2 separate regions of the Homo sapiens genome follow, and region 1 is linked to region 2. The links come from fine-mapping of genetic effects on gene expression. A gene starts in region 2. The other region holds a variant in brackets. All regions are shown on one strand. Distances are between the middles of the regions.

Evidence for each region.
Region 1: its variant is fine-mapped to the expression of TMEM229B in whole blood (TOPMed, PIP above 0.99). The same link has a PIP of 0.9 or more in monocytes.

What each region holds. Positions count from the first base shown.
Region 1 is chr14:67,506,879-67,512,250 of GRCh38, forward strand. It overlaps a transcript of GPHN not described here and a transcript of TMEM229B not described here. Among named protein-coding and RNA genes, the nearest start is that of TMEM229B, 21 kb to the left of the region's middle. The variant A/C (reference allele first, on the strand shown) is at 2,227.
Region 2 is chr14:67,486,437-67,491,808 of GRCh38, forward strand. TMEM229B (transmembrane protein 229B) reads right to left here and starts at 2,285. Exons shown (of 3, transcript NM_001348543.2): 1 at 2,072-2,285; 2 at 564-736. It also overlaps a transcript of GPHN not described here. RefSeq lists enhancers at 1,627-1,696, 1,860-2,359, 1,997-2,416, 4,966-5,372.

The sequences.
Region 1 (5,372 bases), 20 kb after region 2:
GAGGCTGAGGCAGGAGAATGGCTTGAACACAGGAGGCAAAGGTTGCAGTGAGCTGAGATCGTGCCACTGCATTCCAGCCTGGCGACAGGGCCAGATTCCATCTAAAAACAAAAAAGGAAAGAAAGAAAAAGAAAAAGCCTTGTTCAAAGGGAACTGAAGATAGCCTAGCCATAGCCCAATTCCATGAACAAAGAAGACGTGGTCCCTGAGTTCCTGGGCTGAGTATATGGTTTAGCCTTGCCCTTTCAGGTAGTTAGGGCAACAGAGGGGGTTATACTCTCGCTAACACTGAGTTGCCCAGAAAGCACCAGCTAAATTAGCCAGGTGCTAATATAGGTGGTGCAACTACAGTCCTAGCTACTTGGGAGGCTGAAGTGGGAGGATTGCTTGAACCCAGGAGTTCAAGGCTACAGTGAGCTATGATTATGCCACTGCACTCCAGCCTGGGTGACAGAACAACATCCTGTCTCTAAAATAAACAAAAACAAAAACAAAAAAACATCAACCAGAGACCTCAAGTTCTGGAGACCCAAGTGGCAGAGGAGCAGGGATAGGGGGAAGAATCCTGGACTGAAGCAGACCCTGGAGTCCCCAGGGTCTCGGTCTTTTGTCCAAGCTGGAGTGCAGTGGTGTGGTCACAGCTCATTGCAGCCTCGACCTCCCAGGCTTAAGTGATCCTCCCACCTCAGCCTCCCAAGGAACTGGGAGTACAGACATGCGCCACCATGTCCAACTAATTTTGTGTAAAGACAAGGTCTCACTGTGTTGCCTAGGCTAGTCTTGAACTGGCAAGTGATTCTCCTGTTTCCATCTCCCAAAGTGCTAGGATTACAGGTGTGAGCCACCCTGCCTGGCTCAGTTTAAGTTTTAAGACAAGACATAAAGGTTGCTCCCCATGACATAGGAATGGTGAGTATAAGGGTGTACAGACACCACCTCTCAGCTGCCCCACTGAAGCGGTTAAAAGAGCAATGACTGGGCTGGGCATGTTGGCTCACGCCTGTAGTCCCAGCACTTTGGGAGGCTGAGGCCGGCAGTTCACCTGAGGTTGGGAGTTCCAGACCAGCCTGACCAACATGGAGAAACCCTGTCTCTACTAAAAATACAAAATTAGCCGGACGTGGGGGCGCATGCCTCTAATCCCAGCTACTCGGGAGGCTGAGGCAGGAGAATTGCTTGAACCCGGGAGGTGGAGTTTGCTGTGAGCCGAAGTCACATTGCACTCCAGCCTGGGCAGCAAGAGCTAAACTCCATCTCAAAAAAAAAAAAAAGAGCAATGACTGGTCCTAGTCCCCCTTCTTGAGAAGGGACTTCCTCCAGCTCTGACTTTGTTCCTTAGCTTCCAGTTTGACTTCTTTCTCCTTCAACACCATCTCTTCCCTCCCAACTCTGACTTCTGACAGTTCCAGACCAGCTGAGTTATTTCCTGAAAAAGGCTGGAACCTCAGCCTTTCTCAGGAAAGGCTGGATCATCTAGCATTATTACCTGAAGAGAGGTTAGAGAATATCTTGTCCAAATGATAAGAAAACTAAAAGCCAAAAAACTTGCATCACACGCCCAGAGTCACTGAGCTGTGAGGAGAACCCAAGTCTCCTGACCCCTTGCACACTGTTCCATCATACAGCCTCACGCTAGCTCTCCAAGAGGGGTCAGCTCACCTTCCTTGGACCACCACCTTAACCCTCATTCCTCTTCCATGAATACTTCAAAATGGTGGAAGAGGCCAGGTGTAGTTCTGCACCTGTAGTCCCAGCTACTTGGAAGGCTGAGGCTAGAGGATCCCTTGAGCCCAGGAGATAGAGGGATAGAGGCTTCATTGAGCTGGGATTGTGCCACTGCACTCCAGCCTGGGTGACAGAGCAAAACCTTGTCTCAAAAAAAAAAAAAAAAAACAGAAGACAATTAACTTGCTTGGAACAAACAAGAATGGATCCCAATCTACTAGCTGGTCACCTTTGAATGGAGAAATCAGTGGCTATAAATATTTTCTCAGAAGAACAGAATAATCTCATGTTTGCTGTACTTTGCTCAGTGTAGCTGGGACCCCAGAGTCATAATCAGGTCTCCACAGCTGAATTATAATGATGGGCAGGGAAAGGCCCAGAAACTAGGTTGGAGGATGAGGATTGGGGTCAAGAATCTGCAAAGATAAGCTTCTATGACTAGTGGCAGTAGGACAACAGAAATAAAAATGTTGCCCAAACAGACCGTTAAGCAAGAGGAAA[A/C]TTTTGGTTTCAAAATGAAATGGGGTTTATGAGATGTATTCCTATGCCAAGCAGAAAGCGTGTTCCCTTTACAGTAACTCCCAGGCCATCTGGTCTACTTCCCTACTGCAGGGTACAGACCTCTCCTTACTGAACATTCATTGAGATGATGTTTTTCAAACAAGAATCTGTACTTCTGTCTCCTTTTAACTAGTTGTGTTTAATCCACATCAACTCTCTCTTTTTTTTTTTGAGACGGAGTTTCACTCTTGTTGTCCAAGCTGGAGTGCAATGGCATGATCTCTGCTCACTGCAACCTCCACCTCCCAGGTTCAAGCGATTCTCCTGCCTCAGCCTCCCAAGTAGCTGGGACTACAGGCACGAGCCGCCATGCACAGCTAATTTTTGTGTTTTTAGTAGAGATGGGGTTTCACCATGTTGCTCAGGCTGGTCTTGAACTCCTGACCTCAGGTGATCCACCCACCTCGGCCTCCTAAAGTGCTGGGATTACAGGCATGAGCCACCGCACCTGGTCAATTCTCCTTTTTATGTGTTAACCTATACTGCCTCCACTTTTACCCTCTCCCCAACATTTGGTCTATTATCTGATCCAAGCTTATAAAACACAATAGATTCAGACTGGCTGGGAGATGTGGCTTATCCCTGTAATCCCAGCACTTTGGGAGGCTGAGGCAGGAGGATTGCTTGAGGCCAGGAGTTTGAGACCAGCCTGTGCAACATAGCGAGTTATAAAGACTCTGTCTCCATATAAACAATTTTAAAAGTAGCTAGGTATGGTGGCACATGCCTGTAGTCCTAGGGAGGCTGAGGCAGGAGGATCACTTGAACCCAGGAGTTCAAGGCTGCAGTGAGCTATGATTGTGCCACTGCACTAAAGCCTGAGCAACAGAGAGAGAACCCGTCTCTAAAAAAATTTTTTTATTAAAAAAAAAAAGAATCAGATAGATCTCAATTCAAATCCCAGTTTAGACACTTACTAGCTGTATGATATGGGTGATCACTTTATCTTGCAGAGCCTCAGTGTTTCCAGCTGTGAGATGGGGATAATTAATAGTAGCTATCTCATTGATATGAGAAAAGAACATATGTAAATGCTTAGCCTAATAAATGGTGATTGTCATTATTATTGCCATGATCACTGAAGCCAGCTGAAGCTCTATTTGTGGAATTAAGTCTCAGAGGGCTGAAATGGGCTGTCCAAGGTCACACAAGTGAGTGAGTCAGGGAGGGATCCCAGATTTCCTGATTCCTGAAGCCTTTGCCAACCATCAGCTCACACACAGACGAATCATTGCCCAATGACCTAGAAATCGGGGTATCTGATCACATCCAAGTACCACAGCTGGTGATTTAATAAGCACTCACCATGTGTTAGAAACTGTGCAGGCTATATGAAAGCTTTATAGCATCTATAGGTCAGTATAAGAAGGTCATCTCATTGCTTATGCCAAACTAAAAGAAAAAGAAAAAGAAAACAAGACAAAAATCTGGAACCGCTGCTTGTGTTGCCCAGTGGTAATGATATTTCTTGTCCATGTGTGTTTTAAGAAAGTAGATGAAAGTAAGACCAATGCTCTGGCTGCCTTATTCCTGGCTTTGAACAGGCCTTTTTGATTGGGAACAAGGGGAAGAGAGATACTAAGGACTTAGGGACTAAAATGGGGTTTGGCCAAGGACAGCAATGAAAAAGGAGATGGGGGTTGTCAGTGGGCTAAAAACAAGTCCCTGTCGGTGCTCTGAAGAATGGCAGTTATTGTCAGCAAGGTGGGCTTCTCGCTGCACCAGGGCCTGTCCCTCCACTGACTGTGCAAGCAATGAAACCATGGAGCCCCAGGAAGCACATTTTATCTTGAAGCATGAATCACCCCTCAGAAGTCTAGAAAAGAATCCTCTCTTTGTGGCCCTTCAATCTCCTTGGCTGGCATCCCTAGCTCCTCAGGGCTGATGTCAAGGCCTTACTAAAACTCAGGGTGAGTGACCTTTCCAATGGAAACGGATCATTCCAGAAGCTCATGTGACAGGGGTGCCTCTTAATAACTGAAAGGAAACAATGAATGAATGGGCCAGCTAGATGGCATTCGTCATTCAAGTCTAACTGCAAAAGCAGTCAGAAGTGGATAATCCAGTATGTTCTGAATGAGGGGCTTTTGGAAAGCAAAGGAATGGCAGAAAGTGATCTCTCCCCTCATCTTTTCATATTTATTAGCTCTCCCTACATTAATTGACAGCTGAAGTCTTATTTAAAAAAACAAAAAAACAAAAAAAACTGTCATGCTTCTAGAAGATGGAGCAGCCGGAAGGAGCAATCTGAGGACCCGAGACCTGTCCGTGTAGATGGTTTGCCCTCATTTCAAAGATGCTGTCTCTTCTATAATACCAGCCACACTGGGAGCCGAGAATCCCGAAAAAAATATTAAACTCCCTACTGGGAAGCCAGCAGAGTAAAGGATGGTGAAAAGCTGGATGTTCAAAAACATGAATTGTCAATGACTTTGGTTGTTCCTCAAATTGCCAGACTGGATTGTGATCCAAAGGTAAGTGGAAGCACCAAAATCAGAGGAGGGTGGAAAGTCGCCTTTCAGAACCATCCTTTGAAGGAGCAGGGGGCCAGCATCACTCTGTGACCTCCGCTCCACTACATTTATACATAGGGGAACTGATGTTAAAATGAGCATGAAGTATAGCCTCACAGGGGAGGAGAGCCGAAGGCCACACTGGGTATAAATGCAGCCTGATGAATGGGAAAACAGGGAAAGGAGCAAACCCTCTTTTCCATCTTGGAAATGTGATGGTTGACTTAGCCTCAGTTCTATCTGTGGATGTGTGTGTCGGGGTGAAAACCACTGCCTTTTCCTTGAATCACAGCAGCATGGGGCATCCCACAGCTCAAAGTCTGAGGCAAATATACGTCTTGAACCAAACACCCTGGTACTGATGTAAATTCTGGTACGTAAATTCTGAGTGCATCTTTATCTTATAGCAGAAAAGTATAACCTATGGATCTACTCGGGTACTTGATTTTAAATGCTCTTAAATCCCAGGAAAGGAAAATTTCCCCAACACATGCATTCTCACACACCACAGCCAGTGTGACAACTCTCAGTGGGACTCAGTTTCCCTAAGGGGAACCAAACCAAAAGTGCCCC
Region 2 (5,372 bases):
GCTAATTTTTGTATTTTTAGTACAGATGGGGTTTCACCATGTTGGCCAGGATGGTCTCAATCTGTTGACCTTGCGATCCACCCACCTCGGCCTCCCAAAGTGCTGGGATTACAGGCGTGAGCCACAGTGCCCGGCTGATCTGATGGTTTTATAAGGGAGAGTTTCCCTGCACAAGCTCTCTTTCTGCTTGCTACCAACCTTGTAATATGTGACTTGCTTCCCCTTGCCTTCCACCATGATTGTGAGGCTTCCCCAGACACGTGGAATTAACCCTCTTTTTCTGTATACATTTTCCACTCTTACGTATGTCTTTATCAGCAGCACGAAAACAAACTAATACACTGGGTCTGGCCTGGATTTTAGAGGCCATGTGGCCATAAGACGGCTCCCGCATGTGATGGCCCAATATTGCTTGACATTCCCCTCCCATTGCCCTGTGACAGGACCTTGGATGGGGAACAGACTCAGAACTAGAACCTCCAGACTCGTGCCCATGCTGATGAGGTGCCGAGCAGGCAGGATCGCTGGGCTGGTGATCCCCTGGGTGCTTGTAACATACTCACTTATCACACCCTTGAGTGTGCAGCTCACAACAGACATCAGGATCACTGTCCAGGAGTGTCCTGGGTTAACCTTTGTTGGCTGGGCCTCAGTGCCATTCTCAGCAACGTAGGCAAGCATCAGCCCTAGGGCTCAGCTGATCCTTGGCTGGGGGGCTGGCAGCTTCCATGTGTCCCTGGGAATAAAAGAGGAGGCTTTTATTAGCTTAAACTGCCCCCAGCAGATCCAAGAAAAACATTGCAAGGGCCTGGGCTCTGGGCTCAGCACCAGACACTCATCCCACCCTGGCCACCAGGGCCCCTTCCCGGAACCTACCCCCTCCTCTTTGCATCCAGTTTGCTCAGGTCTGATTAATCCAGCCACAAAAGTCTGGGATGGTCCTGGACAATCCACATGTCCAGGGTTAGGACTTAGGGCTTCTTGCCTAAATGTGTGAACACTTGTGAATCTGAGAGGGGATATAATTTTAGAATCCAGCTCCATTCTCATTCAGCTTCAAATTACATTCTCACCTTCACCCTGTAGTGGGTACATCTGTTCTCAAGGGCGGTCAGAACCTCATGGAAGGCAGACAATGTAGGACATTCGTTTCAGCACTTTGAAAGCAGAGAACAACCACTCGTGCAGAAAAACAAAATGTGTGCTAAACCTTTCTACGTACTATTCTACCTCTCTAATATTTATTCATCTCATTTTATTATTTCACCATTATTATGGTTGAGGCCCTTCCTATGAACATCAGTAACCAGCTACAAGCTAATACAAATCTTACTTTATAATGCCCTTTGCCATGTACTTTAAAAAAAAAAATCAAGTAGAGACGGGTCTTGCTATGTTGACCAGGCTGGTCTCAAGCTCTTGGCCAACCCTCCCACCTCAGCCTCCCAAAGTGCTAGGATTATAGGCGTGAGCCACTGTGCCTGGCCAGCCATGTACAGCCATGTTTTTACTACTATCCCTAAGACTTGACTATTTAATGGAGATTCCAACATTTTTTGTTTTAATATGAAAGTGCTAAAGCTTCCCTGAAAACCCCCTGGATACAACACCATCTGCATATGCCCAAGGACAGCACTCAGGCCCAGCATGGCCCTCTGGGACAGCCCAGCCACTCAGAAGCTGAGAACAGTATGTGGCTGGGGGTGGGAGCTGGCACTCCCCTGTGGATGACCAGGCAGGATGGACCAGAGGTGCTGGTCTGTGCTGATGCCCATGTCCACCTTCCCCACTCCCCTCTGACCACCAGGGTCTCTGAGTAGAGGCCGCTTGGGCCCTTGCTCAAGCTGACAACCTGTGAGGCAGCCAGGCAGCCGAGGAGAAGTGAAAGGGCAGGAGTGGGGGAACTGAAACTCACTGTATGGTGTGGTTTTGGGGGGTGCCCCCCTGGGTCTCCCCCCGGGGCCTCTGCACTGAGAGCATCACAGTGGGCTGCTGTGCTCAGCCTTGCCTCCCCCTCCCCAGCTCCTTCACAAACGGGACCCTCCAACCCTCCCTGATCTGTCCATCTTACCGGCTTCTTCCAGCCTGCCGGATGGCGGACAGGGGTCACCTTGACACGTACCTATCACCTTGAGGAAAAGGTTTTAACGGAGCATGTCCGAACCCTCTGGGACTCTCTCTCCACCAGCACCACAAGGACCATGTGCCTGGGGAGTTCAATCCCACCTGTGGAGACTTCTCCCCACCCTAGGCCCTCAGCCACATCCACGGCACAAGTCAGAACTAAAACAGAAACAGAAACCAAAGACCACATCCTGCCGGCACAGCCTGCGGGTTACTGCAGCCAGCTCTGGGAGCCCACTGCCTGCTGAGGTGCAGCCCTGGCAGATGAAGCCCCAGCACTCAGAAAGGCTCCTTTTGAGGGCAGTGTCCCACCAGACACCTCCCACTTCCTGGTCTGCAGGCTTTTTCCCCAGGAAAAACTTAGTTGCAGGGAGGATGAGATGATGGTGCACCTCTCCCTCCAAGTGCATAAGCTGTCCCTAGGCCTCACTGACACTCCCTATCCCCCAAGAGTAGATCCCAGGGGACAGGGGACATGAGGCTCCTTTGAGGACTGCAGGACCTGAACCAGAGTTTCTTGGAACATATGAATGAATGATGAGCCCTTATAGCAACTAACATATGGATGGAACTTAGATCATCTCTCATGATTTTCTCAGGCTCCTGAGGGGCAGGAAGGGCAGAAATGGTCACCTCTATTTTAGAAATGAAAACACAGAGGGTTCAGGACATTAAGAGATTTGGCCAAATCCAAACATTTGATTCAAATCCCAGTCCTCAGCCTCCAGAATCACCCTGTCCCCATACAATGTGCCTTCGAACTGCTTCCCACCCAAATCTCATCCTTAAGGCACATGTCTGCATGCAAGGGTCTTCAAGTCAGTGTAAACTACTTAGTCCATTCCAAGTAAGCTGCTTATTTTGCAAACTTATAGCTGAGTTTGTCCATGCAGCTTCTGGTCAATATGCCTGAGACGCTGCTGGGAGCGTGAAGAAGCAGAGACCACCGGCCTGTTTCAAGCACTGTCATCTCTCCTGCCCTCCTCTGCAGCCACCATTCTGACTCCTTCTTCCAGACCCTGCTCCCTCCTCACTCCTTTGCGATGCCGTCCCACAACCTCCAGGTCATTCCATCACTGATGTTCCCAGGGGGATCTGACCATCCTTCAACTGAAACATGTCATCCCATCTTAAAATTCTTTCTATGTAGCCGGGCGCGGTGGCTCACGCCTGTAATCCCAGCACATTGGGAGGCCGAGGCGGGCGGATCACGAGGTCAGGAGATCGAGACCATCCTGGCTAACATGGTGAAACCCCATCTCTACTAAAAGCACAAAAAATTAGCCAGGTGTGATGGTGGGCACCTGTAGTCCCAGCTACTTGGGAGGCTGAGGCAGGAGAATGGCGTGAACCTGGGAGGCAGAGCTTGCAGTGATCTGAGACCACGCCACTGCACTCCAGCCTGGGCGACAGAGCGAGACTCCGTCTCAAAAAAAAAAAAAAAATTCTGTCTATGTGTCTGTTTCCCCCACCACGCTATGAATTTCTTGAGATCATAAAATTTCTGCTGGATGGATGGACAGGCAAGGTGGAGAAGGGCCCAGCTGCATTTAAATTCTTGGGCGACTGAAACATCCAATGTTACTAATCAAACATAGCAATGTCTTGTGTTTTTCTCTAATTTATAGGCCACCATCACAGATGAGCCATACATGTTGGTTTACTAAAGGCAAGGCTGTCTCTGCAGGTGAAGGAAGCAAGGAGTGTGCTCACTCTCCTTTCTCCCATCTCCAGGAGCCATTGCACCACCAGAGAATGAAGAGAGGCAGAGTGGGCGGCCTGGGTTTGCACAATACAGAAGGCATGTCCAACATCACGCAAGGAAGACTGGGGCAGGAACAGACTGTTCCAGGCATCAGGGGAGATACTGCAGCCTCCTATGTGGGCAAGGGGCCAAGCGCAGGTTCAGGTCAGAGAATAACAACTCCTGTTCTGTTATTTCTACAATGTGCTGGCACTCTCAAAAGCCACATCAGTTTTCATGCACATAGGATTCACTTCCCAAAGAGGCTACTGGCAGGAAATTCCCTTCGCACCATTTTCTCTCCTTTCCTATAACTATTTAAGGTAAGCTGGGCTTGCAGGATTGAGTCTCTGCTTCTCTGACCAGAACCTAAAAATCAGATCTCTCTCCCCGGCCCCTCATCATCTCCTTGGCCTGGAACCTAACACTGGAGCCAGAAAGCATGCAGGCAAATACTACCTCTGTTTTTTTACCCCCACTCTCCTTTTCCTTAACACTCCCCAAATCTCCCTGTAAAGGAAAAAAAGTTTTTTCCTTCTGCTCTCACACTCAAAGCAGAACACTTCTGTGACCAGATATGGGGTGGGCGTGGAGGGGGGCAGATATGCCCCCCATATCTGGTCACATTTCTCCAGCAGACACCAACTGGGTCTCCTACAGTTCATTTAAACTCTGATGCTATCTATCCTGAGATAGCAGCAGATCCCACATTCTGAGGGCTCAGTCCCACAAGACTGCCCCCACTTCAGATGCCAGTCACAAGTAGATCGTCACCTATACTTCTGAACAATTGGTTACAAACCAGGGTTCCCATGACCGCCTCCTTGGGTTCTATTAATTTGCTAGGATGGCTCACAGAACCCGGGGAAACACTTACCTTTACTGATTTATCACAAAGGGTGCAGATGAGCAACCAGATGCAGAGATGGATAGGGTGACGTATTGGGGGGTCACCCACCAGCACCGCCACATGTTCAGCCACCCAGAAACCTATCAAATCTTATTCAAGAGTTTTTATGTAGCTTGATCTCCACCCTCCCACACCTTTCTTGGAGGTTGGAGGGTGAGGCCAAATGTTCTAATCCTCTAAGCATTTGGTCTTTCTGGAGACTGGCTCCATCCTGAGGCTGTCTAGCCCCTCCACCACCCCACCACTTCCCCAGTAACTTCATTAGCATAAACTCAGGTGTTATCAAAGGTGCTTATTATGAATAACAAAAGACATTCCTTTCACTCAGGAAATTTCAAGGGTTTTAGGAGCTCTATGACAGGGACCCGGGACAAAGACCGAATACATTTCTTATTACACCGCACCCTGACCCAGGTGCCCACAAAGTAGAGAAGATGCCTAAAGGCCCACTGGGGAGCCCTCTGGTTACTCAAAGCCCCCAGTTCTTCTCACGTGACTCAGAACAACCACTTTTACTTATCCTAGAGTAAGAAAAGCCCTGAGCACAAATGGATCTGGTAACTTCCTACACCAAGGAGGGGCCAAGCTCAACTA